Regions from separate parts of the Homo sapiens genome. Here region 1 is reported to be linked to region 2. Evidence: microRNA targets listed by miRTarBase, many of them from high-throughput screens and not tested one by one. Region 2 holds a microRNA gene; the other region holds the end of a gene's coding sequence.

Region 1 (3,000 bases), not on the chromosome of region 2:
TCCTGACCTGCCCCCGCACCTGCTGCTGTCCTGTCTGACGGGAGAGGGGCTGGACGGCCTCCTGGAGGCGCTGAGGAAGGAGCTAGCTGCAGTGTGAGCCCCCTCCCACTCCCAGCCTCCCCTGACCCACAGTTTAAGTGTGGGTCCCTCAACTTCAATTTCTGAACCTACAAAATGGGTACAACCATTTCCCCTTCAAGGGATGGTTGTAAAAGGTCGGGAGAGACCATGTCTCTTGTCTCTTCCAGGTGTGGGGACCCGTCCACAGATCCCCCGCTGCTGACCCGAGCAAGGCACCAGCACCACCTCCAGGGTTGCCTGGATGCCCTCGGCCACTACAAGCAGTCAAAAGACCTGGCCCTGGCGGCAGAGGCGCTGCGGGTGGCCCGGGGTCACCTGACCCGGCTCACAGGTGGAGGGGGTACCGAGGAGATCCTGGACATCATCTTCCAGGACTTCTGTGTGGGCAAGTGACGGGATCCAGGGAAGTCGCACCCAAGCTGCGTGGAGACCCAGGAGCCTCGGGGGATCTGGAAACAGTTTAGGCCAATTGGGATTCTCATTCGCCTGGGAAAGAACTTGATTCTCAAATAGTGAAGCAACACAGCTGAGAGGTAGTGAGATCCCTGCAGGGACTCCCTGGAGATTCAGGCCCTGGAATGGGGCTGAATGGAGGTCCCGTTCGACCCTTGATGCTGGGGCATCCGGGTTGGGATGGAGATAGGAGGATCTCAGTATATTTGTTTCGTAGTTTTTTATTTATTTTGCAAATACCAAAGGAATGTAAAAAAAACTCAGGTGATCTAGAAGTGTTTATTTTCTTCCCTTCCCTTCCCTTCCCTTTCCTTTTCCCTTTCCCTTTCCCCTTCCCCTTCCCCTTCCCCTTCCCCTACCCTTCCCTCCTCTGTCTATTGCCCAGGCTGGAGTGCAGTGGTGCGACCTTGGCTCACTGCAACCTCCATCTCCGGGGCTCAAGCGCTTCTCCTGCCTCAGCCTCCTGAGTAGCTGGGATTACAGGCATGTGCCAGCATGCCCGGCTAATTTTTTTCTTTTTTTGAGACAGAGTCTCGCTCTGTCACCCAGGCTGGAGTTCAGTGGTGCGACCTCGGCTTACTGCAACCTCCACCTCCCGGGTTCAAGTGATTCTCCTGCCTCAGCCTCTTGAGTAGCTGGGACTACAGGCGCACACCACCACGCCAGGCTAATTTTTGTATTTTTAGTAGAGACAAGGTTTCACCATGTTGACCAGGCTGGTCTTGAACTCCTTGACCTCAGGTAATCTGCCTACCTTGGCCTCCCAAAGTGCTGGGATCACAGGCGTGAGCTATCACACCTGGCCCCAGAAGTGTTTCAACATGGAAATTTTCCTTAGCCCTTCTGTGGTTGTCATGGCTTAATGTGTGTCTTTCCAGAACTTTGAATGTTTGCATACTTGTGGATGTACCTTTCAAATATGTTTGTCTTGTGTATCATATATAAATGGTATTGTGTTCATTGCTCTACAAATTGTCATTTCTTTTTAAAAAAAAAACAGAATTATGGAGATGGGGGGTCTCACTATGTTGCCCAGGCTGGTCTTGAGCTCTTGGACTCAAGCCATCCTGCTGTCTTGGCCTCCCAAAGTGCTGGGATTACAGGTGTGAGCCACGGTGCCTGGCCTCATTCCTTTTTTAGTCTTTAGTCTTCTTTTTTTTTTTTTTTTTTTTTGATGGGGTTTCACTGTGTTAGCCAGGCTGGTCTTGATCTCCTGACCTTGTGATCTGCCCACCTGTGGCCTCCCAAAGTGTGTGTGTGTGTGTGTGTGTGTGTGTGTGTGTGTGTGTGTGTGTGACAGAGTCTTGCTCTGTTGCCCAGACTGAAGTGCAGTGGTGTGATCTCAGCTCACTGCAGCCTCTGCCTCCTGAGCTCAAGCCATTCTCGTGCCTCAGCCTCCCGAGCAGCTGGGATCATAGGTGTACCCTACCACACCTGGCTAACTTTTGTATTTTTAGTAGAGATGGGTATTTGTCATGTTGCCCAGGCTGGTCTCAAGCTCCTGGCCTCAAAAGATCTGCCCGTCTTGTCCTCCCAAAGTGCTGGGGTTACAGGCGTGAGCCACCACACCCACCTTTTTTTTTTTTTTTTTTTTTTTAGATGGAGTCTCACTCTGTTGCCCGGCCTGGAGTGCAGTGGCGCAATCTCGGCTCACTGCAAGCTCCGCCTCCCGGGTTCATGCTATTCTCCTGCCTCAGCCTCTGAATAGCTGGGACTACAGGCGCCCGCCACCATGCCTGGCTAATTTTTTGTATTTTTAGTAGAGACAGGGTTTCACCGTGTTAGCCAGGATAGTCTTGAGACCCTGACCTTGCACTACCATATCCCATGTCTGGCTAATTTCTTATTTTTTATAGAGATGGGGTCTCCCTATATTGCCCAGGCTGGCCTTGAACTCGTGGACTCAAGCGATCCTCCCACCCCAGCCTCCCAAACTGCTGAGATTACAGGTGTGAGCCACCACACCAGGACAACCTCTTGTATCTTAAAAATGACTGGCAAGGCCGGGCGCAGTGGCTCATGCTGATAATCCCAGCACTTTGGGAGGCCATAGGTGGGCGGATCACGAGGTCAGGAGATCGAGACCAGCCTGGCTAACACGGTGAAACCCCATCTCTACTAAAAATACAAAAAATTAGCTGGGCATGGTGGCATGCGCCTATAGTCCCAGCTATCGGGAGGCTGAGTCAGGAGAATTGCTTGAACCCGGGAAGCAGAGGTTGCAGTGAGCCGAGACCGTGCCACTGCACTCCAGCCTGGGCGACAGAGGGAGAGTCCGACTCCGTCTCAAAACAAATAAACAAACAAACAAAAATCTGACTGGCAAAACCTAGGGGTCTTTCTCCCTCTATAAGCTGAATCTTTATTCATTCATTCATTCACTCACTCCGTGAATATTCATCAAACTCCTGCATCCAGCATTGTACACATCATTTTATTGAATCTTCACCACAGCACGATGTTGTG
Region 2 (3,512 bases):
GGAGTGACGGGACAGCTGGGGCTGACCGTCGGCAGCCAGCGGCCGGGAATGCCCGTGACAGTGGGGCTGGCCGGCAGGGCTGCAACCCCTGCCTGGCTGGGGCTGCTCCAGTTCAAAGGCCTGAGGCCGCCCGCCGGCCCTGGGTGTGGCGTGGGTGACTGTGCCTGGCTCCCCTGCCACCCTTTCAGGCACCACAGCTCACTGGGTCTTGCGCCCCTCCTCCTTCCCCCAGGTGCAGCTACGGCTGGCAAGGGAGGTTCTGCGATGAGTGTGTCCCCTACCCCGGCTGCGTGCATGGCAGTTGTGTGGAGCCCTGGCAGTGCAACTGTGAGACCAACTGGGGCGGCCTGCTCTGTGACAAAGGTAGTGGTAGGGGGCGGCAGGCCTAATGCTCTGCCATCGAAGTGTGGGTTGTGGGGGAGCGGGGGGCCGGCTTTTCCCCTGAGCATCCCACCCCTGCCCCCAGACCTGAACTACTGTGGCAGCCACCACCCCTGCACCAACGGAGGCACGTGCATCAACGCCGAGCCTGACCAGTACCGCTGCACCTGCCCTGACGGCTACTCGGGCAGGAACTGTGAGAAGGGTACGTGGGGGGCTGGCCACCCAAATTCTGGCCAGGCAGGGACTGGTTCCCTGGGGAGCCGGTCAGGCCCCATCCCTCTGGCGTCCTGTGTGGTGGGCCCCTGACCCCCAGCTTGGGAACCTGTGGGCTTGGGGAGGAGTGCTTGTGGAAAGCTGGGGGCCTGGCTGCCAGCTCTGCCCCCTCCCCGCGGTTCTACAGCTGAGCACGCCTGCACCTCCAACCCGTGTGCCAACGGGGGCTCTTGCCATGAGGTGCCGTCCGGCTTCGAATGCCACTGCCCATCGGGCTGGAGCGGGCCCACCTGTGCCCTTGGTGAGTGTCTGCACGTGAGTAGGGGACTCCTGCCTAGTATCAGTGGGGGTCTGGGAGTGGGGCAACTCGCTGGGGATGGGGTGCAGTGGTCAAGTCCACACGTGTGGCTGCGGCTGGCTTGGCGAGGACAAATGGCAGGAAGACCCAGGCTTGCAGCGCCACCTGCCCATGGGGACCTTATTCCCACGGCTCACACTGCCAGGGCCCCACCTTTCTCCACCCTCTGCAGACATCGATGAGTGTGCTTCGAACCCGTGTGCGGCCGGTGGCACCTGTGTGGACCAGGTGGACGGCTTTGAGTGCATCTGCCCCGAGCAGTGGGTGGGGGCCACCTGCCAGCTGGGTAAGGGCTCCGAGCGAGTGCATGGGAACGTGGGCCGCGCATGCGGGCTGCGGGGGCTGCTGGGGCTGCGGGGGCTGCTGGGGCTGCTGGGGCTGCTGGGCTGCGGGTGCCAGGTGCCCGTGCTGCAGGGGGCAGGCAGGGCCCGAGCCCCACGGCTCCCACCTTGTCTCTTTCACAGACGCCAATGAGTGTGAAGGGAAGCCATGCCTTAACGCTTTTTCTTGCAAAAACCTGATTGGCGGCTATTACTGTGATTGCATCCCGGGCTGGAAGGGCATCAACTGCCATATCAGTCAGTATGGGGGGTGGGCGCCGGCGGGTGGGCCGAGGCACATGGGACCCCGCCTCTGACCCTGCTCCTCTGCCCCCAGACGTCAACGACTGTCGCGGGCAGTGTCAGCATGGGGGCACCTGCAAGGTGAGGCGGGGCCAGGAGGGTGTGTGGCGTGGGTGCTGCGGGGCCGTCAGGGTGCCTGCGGGACGCTCACCTGGCTGGCCCGCCCAGGACCTGGTGAACGGGTACCAGTGTGTGTGCCCACGGGGCTTCGGAGGCCGGCATTGCGAGCTGGAACGAGACGAGTGTGCCAGCAGCCCCTGCCACAGCGGCGGCCTCTGCGAGGACCTGGCCGACGGCTTCCACTGCCACTGCCCCCAGGGCTTCTCCGGGCCTCTCTGTGAGGTGAGGTCTGCCTGGTCACCCTGCCCCACCTGCTGCTCTGGGAGCTGTAGGGCAGGCCTCGTCCCCTGACCATGGGGCCTGAGTGACCCAGGGGTGCTGCAGGGGAAGTTGTCCCCAAGGCGTCCCAGGCTCAGCTCTCCACTGGGTGCCAGGTGGGCAGGCGGGGCTGTCACAGGTCACCAGGCTTGGCCCCCTGTGGCCATTGCTTGTTGTGATGGGTTTCCTGGTGGCCTGGGCTAGGAGCCCCCGGGCTGCTGGCTGCCCAGGCCTATCTGTCCATCTGTGCACTCCCTCGGGACTGGAGGGCAGGGGGCTCTGGTGGGCAGAGCACATGGGGTAGGGTGGGTGCCTGATGGTGGAGAGGTATACACCTGTCATAGGTGAGTCCTGGGTCGGAGTGGGCATCTCTCTCAGGGCTGATGCTCTCGCCTCCCTCTGACCATCTGTTGGTACTGGACCCCCTCCCCCAACCTCCCCTTCCCCCCTGCCTCCAAAGTAACCTGCCTTCCCCCTTCCCCACCACCCCTACCACCCCCTTCCCCACCTCCCCCTTCCCCACCTCCCCCAACCCTGCCTCCCCCCACCCACCTCACTATCACCCCTCCCCTACCTCCCCCAACCCTGCCTCCCCCCACCCACCTCCCTACCACCCCCTTCCCCACCTCCCCCAACCCTGCCTCCCCCCACCCACCTCCCTACCACCCCCTTCCCCACCTCCCCCAACCCTGCCTCCCCATTACCTGCCTCCCTACCACCCCCTCCCCTTACTTCCCCTTTTTCCCTGCCTCCCCCCACCCACCTCCCTACCACCCTCGGCCGCCCACGATCCTGCCCTGGCCTTGGTGCAGAGGATGGGCCTCCTGTCCAGAGGGCTTCTTGGGGCCCAGGGCAGGGGTCTGACCTCAGGACCTGCAAGCATGGCAGTGGCTGGCCCTGGAAAAGACCCACAGTCTTGGCTCTGAGGGTGGCCAGGCAGTGTGTGAGGGGCTCAGGAGCTGTCCTTCCTGCCAGCAGCAGGGGCCAAGGCCACACTCCTCCCGAGGGACAGTGAGGAAGCTGGGCTGCAGTGGAGGTGGGGGTGGGGGCCCACAGGTATCTGCGTTCAGCTAAGGCCTGGGCAGTCTCAGGTGGGCAGGGGTCTTGGGCTCTGGCTGGCACTGTTAGGCCCAGGGCGGAGGGGCCTGGGGGTCCCCAGGGATCTACCTTCGTATGGACAGAGGCCTGGCCTGTGTTCCCGGCCTGGGCCTGGGCCTAGGCTCTCACAGGCACCCCCCACCCTGCAGGTGGATGTCGACCTTTGTGAGCCAAGCCCCTGCCGGAACGGCGCTCGCTGCTATAACCTGGAGGGTGACTATTACTGCGCCTGCCCTGATGACTTTGGTGGCAAGAACTGCTCCGTGCCCCGCGAGCCGTGCCCTGGCGGGGCCTGCAGAGGTGCTGGGTGCGGCATGGGGTGGTGGGGGAGGTGGTGGGGCAGGGGCGGGCCTGACTCCTGACTGTACTGCCTGCCATAGTGATCGATGGCTGCGGGTCAGACGCGGGGCCTGGGATGCCTGGCACAGCAGCCTCCGGCGTGTGTGGCCCCCATGGAC

The links. Region 2 holds the annotated microRNA hsa-miR-6765-3p (UCACCUGGCUGGCCCGCCCAG, at 1,726-1,746, shown strand). A microRNA usually pairs through its seed, bases 2 to 8, with sites in the 3' UTR of a target mRNA and lowers its output. Matches are read on the target gene's strand: a 7mer-m8 pairs with bases 2 to 8, a 7mer-A1 pairs with bases 2 to 7 and ends in A, and an 8mer does both.
Region 1: miRTarBase lists GTPBP3 as a target of hsa-miR-6765-3p. Seed matches in the 3' UTR shown: 7mer-A1 at 796-802.

What each region holds. Positions count from the first base shown.
Region 1 is chr19:17,341,230-17,344,229 of GRCh38, forward strand. It overlaps GTPBP3 (GTP binding protein 3, mitochondrial), which reads left to right. Exons shown (of 9, transcript NM_032620.4): 8 at 1-93; 9 at 249-1,502. The coding sequence ends at 474. Among named protein-coding and RNA genes, the nearest start is that of GTPBP3, 5.2 kb to the left of the region's middle.
Region 2 is chr14:105,149,012-105,152,523 of GRCh38, reverse strand. It overlaps MIR6765 (microRNA 6765), which reads left to right and starts at 1,660; the gene lies at 1,660-1,746. JAG2 (jagged canonical Notch ligand 2) reads left to right here. Exons shown (of 26, transcript NM_002226.5): 6 at 233-363; 7 at 467-586; 8 at 785-898; 9 at 1,128-1,241; 10 at 1,420-1,533; 11 at 1,613-1,659; 12 at 1,747-1,920; 13 at 3,204-3,354; 14 at 3,435-3,512.